Regions from separate parts of the Homo sapiens genome. Here region 2 is linked to region 1. The links come from fine-mapping of genetic effects on gene expression. Tissue or cell type: whole blood. Region 1 holds a variant in brackets; the other region holds the start of a gene. All regions are shown on one strand. Distances are between the middles of the regions.

Evidence for each region. PIP is the estimated chance that this variant, and not a neighbour inherited with it, causes the effect.
Region 2: it holds the start of ALPK1, and the variant in region 1 is fine-mapped to the expression of ALPK1 in whole blood (TOPMed, PIP above 0.99).

The regions. Positions count from the first base shown.
Region 1 is chr4:112,424,429-112,432,534 of GRCh38, forward strand. It overlaps ALPK1 (alpha kinase 1), which reads left to right. Exons shown (of 16, transcript NM_025144.4): 7 at 1,237-1,323; 8 at 2,039-2,115; 9 at 3,142-3,237; 10 at 4,721-4,825; 11 at 6,020-8,106. Among named protein-coding and RNA genes, the nearest start is that of NEUROG2-AS1, 87 kb to the right of the region's middle. The variant C/T (reference allele first, on the strand shown) is at 4,608.
Region 2 is chr4:112,292,736-112,300,841 of GRCh38, forward strand. ALPK1 (alpha kinase 1) reads left to right here and starts at 4,634. Exons shown (of 16, transcript NM_025144.4): 1 at 4,634-4,734. RefSeq lists an enhancer at 4,398-4,692.

The sequences.
Region 1 (8,106 bases):
ATAAGAACTTTAATAAAAACTTGTTTCAAAATGGATTTTCTTTCAATATTTAATTATCCATGAAAGGAGGCAAGACCTAATAGTTAGGTAACAAATAACTTAAGGCTTCAGATATCTTGTCTGAATTTCTGGGCATTTAAGTTAGCAAGTTTACCAATAAGTTGAGCACAGTTTCCATTGGACTTTTAAACTCAGCATGCTTGGATGTGAGGTCTCAAACTGCCTGAAACTTGTGGACATTTCTAGTGGGGAGACAGTTTGGAATCCAAATATTAACCACACACCCCTCACTTGTGGCCACCATCACTAAACTACAGTATACACTCTTGTCATCATGTGTGTGTGCACACACACACGCACGCACACAAGGATTCAAAGCTAGGAAGAAAATAAATATTATCTGATGTGACAGAGAATGGTGAGGGGGTAGTAAAGAGTCTGCCTCTATTTTTGATGTTTGACCGACCACTGACAGTTTTCAGGCCACAGCCTTTTTTACTTTTGCCTCACACTGGACAGTCCGATTAAAACAAACAAACAAACAACAAAAAGCCCTTTCATCCACACACCCAAACCCAGCTTACAGGAACCTTTACCCGGCCCCACACCCCAATCACAGTGAAAAGCAAAGCCGCTCACCACTCCCTGCCTGAATCAAAGGAGCAGCTTAGGTGCTAGCCTTACTTACCCTAGAAAGTCTCATTATGTGAGCAATAAATCTTCTCATACCCTCTTGGTACATGTGTGCAGTCATCAGTTTTGACATCCAAACAAATTTTCCTCAGATGGGATCCACCCCACGCTCCGCAAAGCAACCATAAGACAGTGGGGGTAACAGTGTAGAAATACTACTCTGTGGAGGCCTTTGAGGAAAAGCACTGAGGCTGAGACCTGAAGGAGAAGGATCTGGTTTCTTAAGAAGCCAGAGGAAAGAGAATCCCAAGCAGGGCTAGTGGTAAGTGCAGCTGCCATGAAGCAAGAGGCCAGCCCTATAACAAGGAGGCAAAATAAAGTAGAGTGGACAGAGAGTAAGTAGGGGAACTGGAGACCAGACAGGAGTCAGTTCCTGCAGAGCCTTAGACTACAGCAAGAAGTTTGGACCTGATTCTAAATGTAGAGACGAGATTGTTTCTCAAAATGATGTCACATGTGCTCATGAAGACTTCTGTGAAAATAGTTTTAATTTGCAAGGCTATATCTCTGATAATTCAAGGGAATTTTCATCTTTTCTTTTAGGTACCTGGCTGTACAGAAATGAAAGTGACAAGGTCCTGGTGCAGTCGGTCTGTATACAGATCAGAGGGCAGATTCTGCAAAAGCTGGGTACAATCATGTAAAACTTGCATTTCTCAAGGCTCATTTACAAAGCCTGGCTGCATGGTTTCACTGTGGAATTTTCTTCTTTTATCAGGCTAAAATTGTTAATTTCCACTTGCCTTAGTTTCCTCATCGAAAAGAGAATGGCATTTAAGATCCTAGGAGTGTCACAAATATTAATAAAATGTGTTTTTTTCTAGTGAGTTTTGTTAGAGAGGTTCACGGTTGTATATTGTAATGTTAACTGTAGGGTTCCCAGTGTTATTTCTAGCATCTGACTCAGTTCAGCAGGACTCCATGTGATATGGTGACACCTTATACTATACCCACCGTGACACTGTTTTCGTTCATTCCTTAAGGTATTCATGAATTTTTCAAGTTTATAGAATGCTAATATACTTTAGAATGCAAAATAATGGTTTGAGAAATTTTAACAGGAGGTGGCAATTATTATTTTTGTAAAAAACTGAGATAACTACATATATTACACATATTATATATACAAATATATAATAATTCTGTTTCCCAGTGAAATGGAAAAATTGTCTATATTACAACTGGAAAAACATTGCTGTGTCAATCTAATCTAAGCCTAAGTTTTCCTAACAGAATCTAATGAGTCTTGGTTCTGTATTTGTTTTCAAAGGTTTTCTCTATACAAGAGCACAGATACTAGCTGTTCCTCCCCTGTCCCTCTCCCCGCCCCTCTTTTTTTTTTCAGGGATGTGGTACGAAGCAGCAGAGTTAATATGGGCCTCCATTGTAGGATATTTGGCACTTCCTCAGCCGGATAAAAAGGTGGTTTGTCTAGTGCTTCTTTTTCTCCTTTCCTGTATTTGTCTTTGGATGATTATCTCTTCATGACAGAAGTCCATTTCTCATATATCAATTTCATCTGTCCTATTTTTATTTATTTTTCACAAGCATAGGGCCAGGTACAGTTAGTAGCTTCCTTATGTGTCTTGCTTCATCCTCACTCACAGCTAGACTCTTGGTGCATAGATGGTGTTCTTATAATCATTTGTAACTGTCCATTTATATATTTATCTCTACTGGTCCATTCATTTATCTGTTTTGTTATATATTTACTCTTTACTTGATTGCATAGCAAAGTTGAGATGACCAAGTTGCTTATATGTAAAATCAGTTTTCTTGAGTTGAGTGGGCGAAGACTTCAACTGTTTATATAGCACCTTTATTCAAGAAATTGAGGAAGGTCATCTGCCTTCCTACTTGACATTTTCATTTTCTGGAATTCTGTGGGAATAGTCTCATTATCTGAAACATCTGGTTATTACATTTCCCTGAGCTGTGTAAGCAATTACTGTCTACGATTCTTTTACAATACAGACTGATATGAGCTCTTCCTTGGGCCAGTTATTCAGGCCTAGCAGTAGGGACAAGTTAGTATTGATCATCCAGTGAAACCCAACTGAGAAGTAGCTGTGTTTACATTAGGCCCATGTGCCCTAGGATGTGTTGATCCTTCAAGCTCTGTGGCAGCCAATTTAAAAATATCTCCAAGTCAGGGTATTAATTATTACACAATGTATATATATGTCAAAATGTCACATTGTATCCCATAAACATGTATAATTATTATATACATGTTTGATATAAAACATGTATTTTTAAAAATAGTATTTTTAAAAATAGTATTTTTAAAAATTGATTTTTAAAAATAGTATCTCCAATGTCATAGTAATAAAATATTAATAGGCAAATAGTTCATATGGAGGAATAATCATAGCCTTTAGGCCATGGATGAGAGCAGTAATCCACTGTGAATTCCCGATCTGTGACTTCTTTGTGTTTTTCTTACAGGGCCTCTCCACGTCGCTAGGTATACTGGCAGACATCTTTGTTTCCATGAGCAAGAACGATTATGAAAAGTTTAAAAACAATCCACAAATTAATTTGGTAATTATCATAACACTGAGTGGCATCACCTGTAAAATTGTCAATCGTGTCCTTGGTGGTTGGTTAGTGGCTGTCTTTCTCAGGAGATTGGGAGGCAGGGAGCTCAGTGCTGCGCCTCCTAGACAAATGGGAGGAATCCTGGGGAGGAGTCTTGTGGGGTCCTATTTGGCTTTATTATCCCAGCGCCTAGCACTGTAACAGACACTCAGAGAGTGCTCAGAAAGTTACTGGTGAATGAATGAATGAATATCAACAAAATGATTTTGAGCCTCACTTCTTTCCTTTCAAAGTATAACAAAATGCAGTTTCCAAACTTGGGCCATCTTGATGATAAAGGGGTAATAATTTTAAAACTTTGTAATCACCATCTGTTCAAATCAGAGCATCAGTCCCTTGTTCCAGGCTCTCGTCCTTGATAATAATGACTGCTAATTTTTATATATCACTTTACAACTCAAGAAAGTATATATATATCCAATAAAACCCTATGAGGAGGGTAGAGCAAAGTGTATCATTCCATTTTAGAGAAAAATAAAATGCAGTGCAGAGAAACTAACTAACCTCTGCAGTTTACACAACCAGTAAGAGAGAGAACTGGGAGCTGAGCCCAGATCTCTGACCAGCCCAGAGAAGTGACAAGGATGTTCTGCTGCTCTTCACACTGTGCTTAAATGGAGTTTTTATTATCGTCTATATTGCCATTTTTATTCAAGACCCCATTATTAAAGATACCATTAAATCACAACAGTAACCATGCTCAATACTAATTAGTGTAGCAAAAGAACACATACAGCTTGCTGATGGTAATCTGAATCTAAGATGTTGCTTTTTCTGTTTGACCAAAACAGGAGGATCATGTCCCTTGTTCACTGAAGTTATCCCTGATGACCGTTTAAAATTGCAAACTTCCTTCCCATCCTGGGCCTCCCTAACCCCTTCTCCATTTATTGTCTCTCCAGAACACTTGTCATAATCTCAAATACTATGCACTTTACTTGTTTTGTATATTGACTGGTCCCTCCCCCACAACAGAAAGTAAGCTCCTTGAGGGCTCACTGTCTGCTGTTTCCCCTGTGTCTAGAACAGGCCCTGGAATGTGGTGGTACTCTATACGTATTTACAGAATTAATAAATGAATTCTAATTGCTGTGAAATCATCAATTAAAGGGCTCTTTGCCAAGAGCGTGCAGAAATCAATTAATCTGGCTTCAAAATGTGCAGTTCCTTTGAACAAAGAACTGCCACCGTCCTCCAAAGAAGCTCACCCAAATTATTTTGCACAGGTGTGTGTCTGCTGGGAAAAAGGAAAGTCAACACCTTGTGGTCTTTAGACCCACTTACTCTTTCTTTACACTGTTCTGAACGGGTTG[C/T]GGTGAGGAGTCCCTTGAAATCATGAAAGAAAAGCAAAACCATTTCATAGCCTGTTTTTTGCTCATCGATAATTAATTATCACCATTCCACTTAGCCTCCTGTTTTCTCACAGAGCCTGCTGAAGGAGTTTGACCACCATTTGCTGTCCGCTGCAGAAGCCTGCAAGCTGGCAGCTGCCTTCAGTGCCTATACGCCGCTCTTCGTGCTCACAGCTGTGGTAAACGAATGCAGCCGCTCCTCAAACCCCCACAGGACCTCTCCCAGGGTGCTTTCTGATGTAACCAGTGAGAAGGGAAAGGTTTAACCTTCAAACAGGCTTTGTGTCTCATCAGTGGCAATTGTGATAAGACTCCACACCACATATGGAAAAATTTTATTGGTCGGAGTTTTGACAGCCTACTAGGAGCTAAATTAATTCAGCCCAAGGGTAGATTGTTGTCTGTTGTGAAGCAATGGTTCCCAAGCCTGAGTGCACATCAAAATCACCCAAGGAACCTTCTCAAAATACATATTCCTGCCAGGCATGGTGGCTCACGCCTGTAATCCCATCACTTTGGGAGGCCAAGGTAGGAGGATGGCTTGAGCCCAAAATTTCAAGACTAGCCTGAGCAACATGGTGAGACTTTGTCTCTACAAAAAATTAAAAAATAAAAATTGGCCAGGTGTGGTGGTACGTGCCTATAGTCCCAGGTACTGGGGAGGCTGAGGTGGGAGGATCACCTGAGCCTGGAAGGTTGAGTTTGCAGTGAGCTGAGATTGCACCACTGCACTCCACCCTGGGTAACAGAGCAAGACCCTACCTCAAAAAAAAAAAAAAAGAAAAGAAAAGAGAAAAAGAAAAAGAAAAAAAAAAGAAAGAAAAAAATACTACACATTTCTGAGCTCCACCCTAGATCCACTAAATGCAAATCTCTGAGGTTGGTATCCAAAAATCTTTAATTTTGGAATATTGTCCAGGTGATTCAAATGCACAGATGCATTCGGAAACCAATGCCCTATTGTTTCGACATTAAATGAATGATGTATTCATATATGGCATCCTTATTTGCATAGAGAAACTTATATCCATTTCCATGGATAGACTCTGTTAAAACTAACAACAGCAACAAACACAAGCCTATCGTCTTTAATCAAAATGTATCAAAGATACAATAGGATGGTAATTGAAGCTGATTTCTTACCCCTTCATGCCAGCCAGTCACTTATATCCCCATCCCTTCTTCTGATTCACCAAAAAGGCCTCGGGTCCTTAACTCAATGTTTGCCTGTATATTTTCCTTAGAATGTATGTGGCATGTGTTCATTTTTCTATAATATTTCAAATGACTGTCCTCCAGAAATGAAAAGTTTGTCCTGATTCACTTGCAGTTTTCAATTCAATATCTGATTTGGTATTTGGTATTTTTCCCAGAATATCCGTGGCACGTGTTTATTGTCCTACAGTAGTTCAAATGACTGTCCTCCAGAATTGAAAAACTTACATCTGTGTGAAGCCAAAGAGGCCTTTGAGATTGGCCTCCTCACCAAGAGAGATGATGAGCCTGTTACTGGAAAACAGGAGCTTCACAGCTTTGTCAAAGCTGCTTTCGGTCTCACCACAGTGCACAGAAGGCTCCATGGGGAGACAGGGACGGTCCATGCAGCAAGTCAGCTCTGTAAGGAAGCAATGGGGAAGCTGTACAATTTCAGCACTTCCTCCAGAAGTCAGGACAGAGAAGCTCTGTCTCAAGAAGTTATGTCTGTGATTGCCCAGGTGAAGGAACATTTACAAGTTCAAAGCTTCTCAAATGTAGATGACAGATCTTATGTTCCCGAGAGTTTCGAGTGCAGGTTGGATAAACTTATCTTGCATGGGCAAGGGGATTTCCAAAAAATCCTTGACACCTATTCACAGCACCATACTTCGGTGTGTGAAGTATTTGAAAGTGATTGTGGAAACAACAAAAATGAACAGAAAGATGCAAAAACAGGAGTCTGCATCACTGCTCTAAAAACAGAAATAAAAAACATAGATACTGTGAGTACTACTCAAGAAAAGCCACATTGTCAAAGAGACACAGGAATATCTTCCTCCCTAATGGGTAAGAATGTTCAGAGGGAACTCAGAAGGGGAGGAAGGAGAAACTGGACCCATTCTGATGCATTTCGAGTCTCCTTGGATCAAGATGTGGAGACTGAGACTGAGCCATCGGACTACAGCAATGGTGAGGGAGCTGTTTTCAACAAGTCTCTGAGTGGCAGCCAGACTTCCAGTGCTTGGAGCAACTTATCAGGGTTTAGTTCCTCTGCAAGCTGGGAGGAAGTGAATTATCACGTTGACGACAGGTCAGCCAGAAAAGAGCCTGGCAAAGAACATCTGGTGGACACTCAGTGTTCCACTGCCTTGTCTGAGGAGCTAGAGAATGACAGGGAAGGCAGAGCTATGCATTCATTGCATTCACAGCTTCATGATCTCTCTCTTCAGGAACCCAACAATGACAATTTGGAGCCTTCTCAAAATCAGCCACAGCAACAGATGCCCTTGACACCCTTCTCGCCTCATAATACCCCAGGCATTTTCTTGGCCCCTGGTGCAGGGCTTCTAGAAGGAGCTCCAGAAGGTATCCAGGAAGTCAGAAATATGGGACCCAGAAATACTTCTGCTCACTCCAGACCCTCATATCGTTCTGCTTCTTGGTCTTCTGATTCTGGTAGGCCCAAGAATATGGGCACACATCCTTCAGTCCAAAAAGAAGAAGCCTTTGAAATAATTGTTGAGTTTCCAGAAACCAACTGCGATGTCAAAGACAGGCAGGGGAAAGAGCAGGGAGAAGAAATTAGTGAAAGAGGCGCAGGCCCTACATTTAAAGCTAGTCCCTCCTGGGTTGACCCAGAAGGAGAAACAGCAGAAAGCACTGAAGATGCACCCTTAGACTTTCACAGGGTCCTGCACAATTCTCTGGGAAACATTTCCATGCTGCCATGTAGCTCCTTCACCCCTAATTGGCCTGTTCAAAATCCTGACTCCAGAAAAAGTGGTGGCCCAGTCGCAGAGCAGGGCATCGACCCTGATGCCTCCACAGTGGATGAGGAGGGGCAACTGCTCGACAGCATGGATGTTCCCTGCACAAATGGGCACGGCTCTCATAGACTGTGCATTCTGAGACAGCCGCCTGGTCAGAGGGCGGAGACCCCCAATTCCTCTGTAAGCGGTAACATCCTCTTCCCTGTCCTCAGCGAGGACTGCACTACCACAGAGGAAGGAAATCAGCCTGGAAACATGCTAAACTGCAGCCAGAACTCCAGCTCATCCTCAGTGTGGTGGCTGAAATCACCTGCATTTTCCAGTGGTTCTTCTGAGGGGGACAGCCCTTGGTCCTATCTGAATTCCAGTGGGAGTTCTTGGGTTTCATTGCCGGGAAAGATGAGGAAAGAGATCCTTGAGGCTCGCACCTTGCAACCTGATGACTTTGAAAAGCTGTTGGCAGGAGTGAGGCATGATTGGCTGTTTCAGAGACT
Region 2 (8,106 bases), 130 kb before region 1:
ATCTCACTCTTGTTGCCCAGGCTGGAGTGCAGTGGTGTGATCTCGGCTCACTGCAATCTCCATCTCCTGGGTTCAAGCGATTCTCCTGCCTCAGTCTCCTGAGTAGCTGGGACTACAGGTGCCCACCACCACCCCTGGCTAATTTTGTATTTTTAGTAGAGATGGGGTTTCACCATGTTGGTCAGGCTGTTCTCGAACTCCTGACCTCAGGTGATCCACTCGCCTCGGCCTCCCAAAGTGCTGGGATTACAGGCATGAGTCACCGCGCCCGGCCTAGGATTTTTAAAATAGTCCATCATCTGCTTTCTGCCACTGCTTTACTGATTTGTTCTTGTTATATCCATCCTTGACCTACTTGCCAAGCCAAAGGACACTTTTCTGTTCTCGTCCTACTTCACTTCTCTGCATCATTTGTTCTTGTTGACCAATTTCACTTCATTGACACTGTCACTTCCATCTACTTGGCTTTTAAGCAGGCTTTCCTGAGTGTGTGACCTGTGCAATCCATAGGGCCCTGCACTCAGAGTCCCATGCTTATATCGGCTATCATCAACCTGAAATGCTTAATATTTTTGAACAAGAGGCCCTGCAAAGTCTCTTGCCAGTCCTGTTTTTAGGATATACTTTGTTTTGGTTTTTTTACTACTGTTCTAAGCGTTCTTTACCCATCTCCTCTATGGATCTCTCTTTTTCTGCGTGAATGCCAGTATTACCAACTTCCACCTCTGTGGCCTTCTTTCTATCCTGTACATTCCCCTTTGGTAATATCTAACTACAATTATAGTTTTTTGACTGCCTCTAAGTCATTTACCCATATTTCTGTGTCTCTCACCCAGGCCTGTGATTCTATTTCCTAAATATTTCTTTCCCTTCCTTTTTATTCCATTGCTACTGCCATTAATTAAGGCTAGTCATCACTTCTCTCTACAATACTGCAGTACTCTTCTAACTCATTTTCCTAATTCCAGTCTTGCCTCCTAATCCACCCACCACCAGGATCCCTCCCTTGCATGAACCTTGCTCCATACTCCAACCTTCCCACAACAGTAAGTATTCTTTCTAAAACAGTTTTATGATTTTACATTCTTTGAAATTTTCTGTTTTCTGTTGTTTTTTTTTTTCTTGAGATGGAGTCTTGCTCTGTTGCCCAGGCTGGAGTGCAGTGGCGCAATCTTGCCTCACTGCAACCTCCACCTCCCGGGTTCAAGAAATTCTCTGCCTCAGCCTCCCAAGTAGCTGTGACTACAGGCATCCGCCACCACGCCCAGCTAATTTTTGTATTTTTAGTAGAGACAAGGTTTCACCATCTTGGCCAGGCTGGTCTTGAACTCCTGACCTCGTGATCCGCCCGCCTCGGCCTCTCAGAGTGCTGGGATTACAGGCGTGAGCCACCACGCCTGGCCCAAATTTTCTATGTTGTCAATATAAATATCCAAACTCCTTAAAATGAAACACAAAGACCTCCTATTATGAGCCAACTCTTGCCAATTTTTTCCAACTAATTTCTGGCCACATCACTACTAATCCATCAGTCACTGTGATTGCCTTAAGTGCATTGCTTGTGTGCACAGTCTGAATCTGTAGCACCAATGTAGCACTTGACACAAAAGATTCCCTAAACATGTTATTGAGATGAACGAATGATGTCAGCTTGTATCAGCATTTTATATTTTATATTCAAGATGATAAATCCTAGAAAATCAAAATGAGTATGATGCTGCAGCCAGTTTTCCTGCGTGTCATAATGTATTCCTTATATAGGTGTACATCTCAATCACTTAAAATAGTTGAAATTTGTGTAATGAAACTTCCATCTTTGAAATCTTACTAAAACTCACCACTGGATTATAAATGAGCCATTTTGTCTTTGTGTTTTACATGACTCTAAGGATCTTACCAGGAATCCCTGTTGAAGACAATCTGACTGTTGTCCAAACTGTAAGAAAGATAATATCTCCTATGAGATCCCTCCTCTTCTATCAGTGCCATTGCCTTTCTCTCCATACTCAGGTGTACAGTGCCCTTTTTTAGGCTCTGAAATGTACAGCCCTTCATCCTAAACACTGTATTTCCAACATTTTTGCTCCCCTACCCCCAAATAGAATTTTGCAAAGACAATAATTCCTTCACATAAAGTCGATATTCATCTTTCATTATAACTTTAGATACAAAGGGTCTAAATCTGACGTTGAATAAACATAACTCATACATTACTCTTTTAAATGTATCCAACACAAATTTTATATCCTAGTGATTTGATGTTCCCCATCATCCATTTAAAAACGCATGTACAGGCTGGGCGCAGTGGCTCACTCCCATAGTCCCAACACTTTGGGAGGCTGAGATGGGTAGATCACTTGAGCCCAGGAGTTCGAGACCAGTCTGGACAACATGGAGAAACACTGTCTTTACAAAAAACAAACAAACAAAAAAACAAAAACAAAAATTAGCCAGGTGTGATGGTGTACACCTGTGGTCCCAGCTACCTGGGAGGCTGAAGCAGGAGGATCACTTGAGACCAGGAGGTCAAGGCTGCAGTGAGCTGTGATTGTGCCACTGCATTCCAGCCCAGGTGACAGCCCTATCTCAAAAAAGTTTAAAATTTAAAAAATTTAAAAATAAAGACACATGTACAAATCTTTTTTAACAATTGGAAATTTTATATCATTCCTGTATTTCCGTAACCTTCTGTTTCATTTCACTTCATCCATAGAAGTTTATCCTAGTATAAAACAGTTTATATACTTGAAAGTTTTTGTCATATTTCTTTACAGTAAAAATATGTAGGCCGGGTGCAGTGGCTCAAGCCTGTAATCCCAGCACTTTGGGAAGCGAAGGCAGGCAGATCACCAGAGGTCAGGAGTTCGAGACCAGCCTGGCCGATATGGTGAAACCCTGTCTCTACTAAAATACAAAAATTAGCTGGGCGTGGTGGCGGGTGCCTGTAGTCCCAGTTACTTGGGAAGCTGAGGCAGGAGAATCGCTTGAACCCAGGAGGCAGAGGTTGCAGTGAACAGAGATCATGCCACTGCACTCCAGCCTGGGCAACATGTCTCTCAAAAAAAGTATATATTGAAATTAAACCTTTCTGGCTGGGTGTGGTGGCTCACACCTGTAATCCCAGTGCTTTGGGAGGCCGAGGCAGACAGACCTGAGGTCAGGAGTTCGAGACCAGCCTGGCCAACATGGTGAAGCCCCACCTCTACTAAAAATACAAAAAATTAGCTGGGCGTGCTGGCAGGCACCTGTAATCCCAGCTACTCGGAAGGCTGAGGCAGGAGAATCGTTTGAACCCAGGAGGCAGAGGCTGCAGCGAGCCGAGATTGTGCCACTGCACCCCAGCCTGGGCAACAAGAGCGAAACTCCATCTCAAAAAAAAAAAAAAAAATAGAAAAGAAAAAAGAAATTAAACATTTCTGTTTTCTGTGACCATAGACTCTAAGTATTAAACTTTCTTAAAGATTGAATTGTACAAGTATTGATTCATAATTGATGAAGAAGACAAAAATAAAATGGTACGTTTTGATGAATATTAAGTGATAAAATTTATTCAAGTGTCACTTCTCCATAAGATTTCTGGAGTTTTAAAAAATTAATTCACAGCTGAATGTTACTTATAGTTGGAATAAAACAACATTCCACAAAAATATACACATGGAAGAGGAGAGGAACTGTGTTTACATAAATAAATAGAGATAGAATTTTGTTATAGCAATGCCATTTGGTTATTTAAACTTCTAAGGTCATATATTAAACATTACATAGCGATCTATCACACAAAAAAAATGTGTTTTAAGTGATCGAGCAACTGACTATTCAACTATTTCCTCCTATTTTGTTGTAAACAATTGACTTGCCAAAGCATTTATGACCCAGCTTTTGGAGTCCTTCACTCTCTCAGTTTCTAGGAAGTATACCAAAGGCTTTACCAAAATGTATCAAATGACTATTAATAAAACCTATTATTCCTTCACTCTAGAGGAAACTTCTTTAACCCAGCAGGCTCAAAAAGGATTGAGAAAATTAAAATATTGTTTATGTCAATAACTTTTCCAATAAAATATATTTTGACATTTAGAAATCTTAGGTACTTTTGATTTTTTTGTCAAAATTTCGAGTTGCAGATTTCAGTTGTTCCATGGAAGGACAATGTCCACTGTGTAACTCAATAAGACACTTTTCACTGTCAAACTAGTCAGCCTAATCAGATATTCTATCCAAAAAGTCCTAACTTTATTTTCCAGTTCAGCAATATATGTGTCTCTGTGATAACAAGCTCACTTCTAAGACAGAGCACAGAATGAAGCCTTAATGTGCATCTGTCTTTTGCTAACAGATTTCAACAATGTCATATTCATTGTTTCTTACTGACATTCTCTCTTCTTGGCTCTAAGAGGACTCTCCATTCTTAGTCTAAATAATAAGTTTTTCTTGCACTTTCATTAGGAGAAGGAACTTTTCTGTAGTAATACAGCTCCCAGAATACCTTTCACCGAAGCAATTCCTAAAGGGGTGTGTCTTATGGTGCAAGATTGCTGAAAGTCCCGGAATTGAATTACACAACCATATTCTGAGACAGTCACAGGATTGGTTGTTTTTTTTTTTTTAATTCCTACTTCCTGAAACTGAAGCCGTTTATGAGAAACAGTGTGTTTCAGAGAGGCTGTACCAGAATTAACTCTGCTCAGAGTTAGATTTGCTGGTCTTAAAGTACTTTTCCTCTTTAAGATAAAAGTGAGTATCATCCTTTAAATGACAAAACGCAGTAGATGGCATAATATATGAGGAAGTATTTGTCTTAAGTGTTGACTCAGTTTCCATCTGCTGATCTTGTTTATATTTAAATAACTTTAGAGCTCTAAGAACCTTTGCACTTCTATAATAGAAACTTTCCAGAAAGGGGAGGATGAGTTGGTGGGGTGAAGGGGGTGGAGTGGGGAAGGGGAGGGAGAGAAGGGAAAAGTTACCTACAATGGTAAACTGTAGTCATTATGAAGGGGAGAAGGCAAACCAGTTTTTCATAAGGTTTTAATAACAAGTTTCTTAAGTCACTGAGCTTCTGGTCTTGTCACTTAACTGAGATGTTTAATTAAAGGATTGTTAGGATTATTTGTTTAAAAAAAAACTCTATGACTTTTGCCTGGAATACATAGGTAATAATAGAAACTACCACTTTTATGACAGCATCAGTAATTTTGCTAGGAAACAGGTAGATAAGGCACGAGACTTACTCGTCTCATATGGGTGAATTGACGGGAATTCTGAGTGCGTGGAAGCATTGTTTAGAGACAAAGCATCCAGAAAAATTAAATTCCTTTGCATGTCTATTTAGAAAAATCCTTTAATTAAAAAATTCTAGTGTTTGAAATTAGTACTTTAGAGTACTTTGAAAAGCCACAAATTAAAACCTTTAAGATGGTTTGGGATTTGAGGATGGGTGAGGGTACAAACAGGCAGGATCAGGAAGGAGAGGACTTTATGCCACAATATAATAGCATCTCTGCTTGCGATATATATTTCTCTCTCTCTCTGTCTCTCTCTCTCTCCCTTTTACTTTCTTTTTACTTTGTGCCACTAATTCTCTTATAAGAAACAATATCCATTTAATTTGGGGTATAATTTATGCACTTGGGATACACTCTAGTCTCTAGAACCAATGTCAAGTCCAGTCCTTGTCTGCTGACCGAAACAATTTACTTCTCTCTTCCCACCTCCTTCCCACCCCATCAACCTCAAGCCTCAAGAGAAACAAAATACTTAAACTTATTTTAGAAATAACTTATTCCCCATATCAAAGATCTTTTAAATCTGAGATGAATCTCTCAAATTTCTTCCGCCAAGAAGACACCAAAATTGTATAGCATCTCTATCTGCATGAGTAGGAAGCCAATAATTACTTTAAACTTTTCAAAATCTATTTTAAACTGTAAAGAAAAGGCATGTGTAAATTATGATGGATATTAGGCATTATCATATATAATAATACTGTGATGAGCTTTGCTGATGTGTTAAGCTGTAACAATACCTCCCAGCAAGTGCCATGTGATCTAGGTTTGGATTTAGAGCCTGAAGTTTTCCTTAAGAATAAGTTTGTGCATTTCAAGATATTTCTGAAATTCCATGGCTCCTTCTATTCCAAACAATTTTACTGATCCCTTTCCCATGAACACAAGGCATGAATTGCTTTTATTATTCTCTAATCTATTGCAGAGAATGATGGCTTTTTGGCATAAGCTGTTCATTGTAAATGATTTTCTTTCTTGAAATTTTGAATATCTATGGATTGAAGAACTCTTAAAGGAATGAGCATTTAAACTTTTGGTGAAAATATATTCCATATTTTTGTTTTTTTTGTATTTTGTATTGTATTTGTTGCCTCTCTATATGGGGGAGTCTTTGTTTCTTGTTATTGATGGTGACAACTGTTTTTGCAGAATGTTGTAATATGCTTTATTTATAGAGAACTGTGGGATAGACAAACTTAAAAGAAAGAATATTATCTGGTGCTATCATTCTTCTATGTCTGAAGAAAAGAAGAGATGATTATAACTTAAATATCAGATACATACAAATACAACTTTTCCTAAGTATGGTATACATGCTACTGATTTTAGGCAGTACATGTCTAAACTTCAAAATTTTGAGTTATTTGCTAGCTTAATATAAATTAACATAATTTGCTTATAAAACCTAGAATTTCATGAATACTGTTGTTCAGGAAAGTGTTAAGTAAGAAGTTGAGCTAATTTACTATTGATTTTAAGGAAATGATTAAATAAATAATATTACAGGTAATCTGCAGATTTGGCAAAAATTATGAAGATGGCATGCAAATGGCTAAAGTTTCAGACATGCTACACTAATGCATTTGAGAAGTGGATATTTTCTTAGCCAGTGCAGTATCTTTGAATTTTACTGGGCCTTGGTTACAGAGCTCAGTTGACAATGCAATCTGTTCAATTTCCTAAGTATAGATGTACAAAGTATTTGACAGAGAAATATTTTATCAAACGTTTATCACACCTGTAGCCTAATAAACTATTATATTTCCTCGTAAATTATCATATAATTGAAGGGATGCAGAAGATAGCCAATACTTTTTCAAATAAGAGTGATAGAAAGGGTGAAATGTCTCAGCTTGAATACTACAGGTTCATTCTGCTTGTTTCACTGAACTTCTGAACTCAGGGGCCAGGGGGGACTTTAAACATTATCTAGATCAAGGGCTACTAATGGGTCATAGTATGTGCCAATGGCTATATGCAATAATTTCATTTCTGGGAATCCATCCTAAGGGGGAAATAATTCTAGACAAGGGAAAAATTCGCAAACATGTTCATCATAAAGTCGTAATAACAAATAATTGCAAGCATTCTCATAAAAGGGGGAGGTTAAGCAAAAGATACTGTACCCATAAAACATGATAGGATAAAAAATAGTACCAGCACAGAAAATACTAAGTGAAAAACAGACTCAGGATTGAATAACTTGTATGCATGCAAGTATTTACATAAAATGGTATAGATATAAATTCAGAAATATTCTAAAAGTGATTGTTGTCTTACAGTGATAGATTCTTTCCCTTCCTTCTATTTCTTTCTACATAACATGATATTCTTACAAAAAATTTTTAAATTATTATATAATATACTTATATCTTTTTTGAGAAAACAAATATAGTTTATTAAATAGAACTATATTGCTAATAATATATAGTAAATAAAACTATGCAGCTTTGGAAGATAAAAGTTTTTCCTTCTTTTTATTTGGCATACAAATAACCAGCTATGTGAAAGAAGAGAGGACGGAGTCTCAGTGCTAGGAACAAACAGGTGCAGCGGAGTCAGTGAACAGAGAAGGAAATACCAGTTGAAACACTTACTATTGGTTCATTTTTCTTGTGTTGATTGCTTCTCTGTCAACTGTAGCTTTTACTTCAGTCTAATAATTCTTTTGGCTTAAAGATAAAAAAAAAAAAGGCAGGGAAGGGGGAATGGAAATTTGGCCTGACCTGTGTGCAAATAACCTCTTAACTCATTTCTTGTTCTTATGGATTTCCATATTTTGGATTTAGTAATTTATATCTGCACATATTGTACTTATATT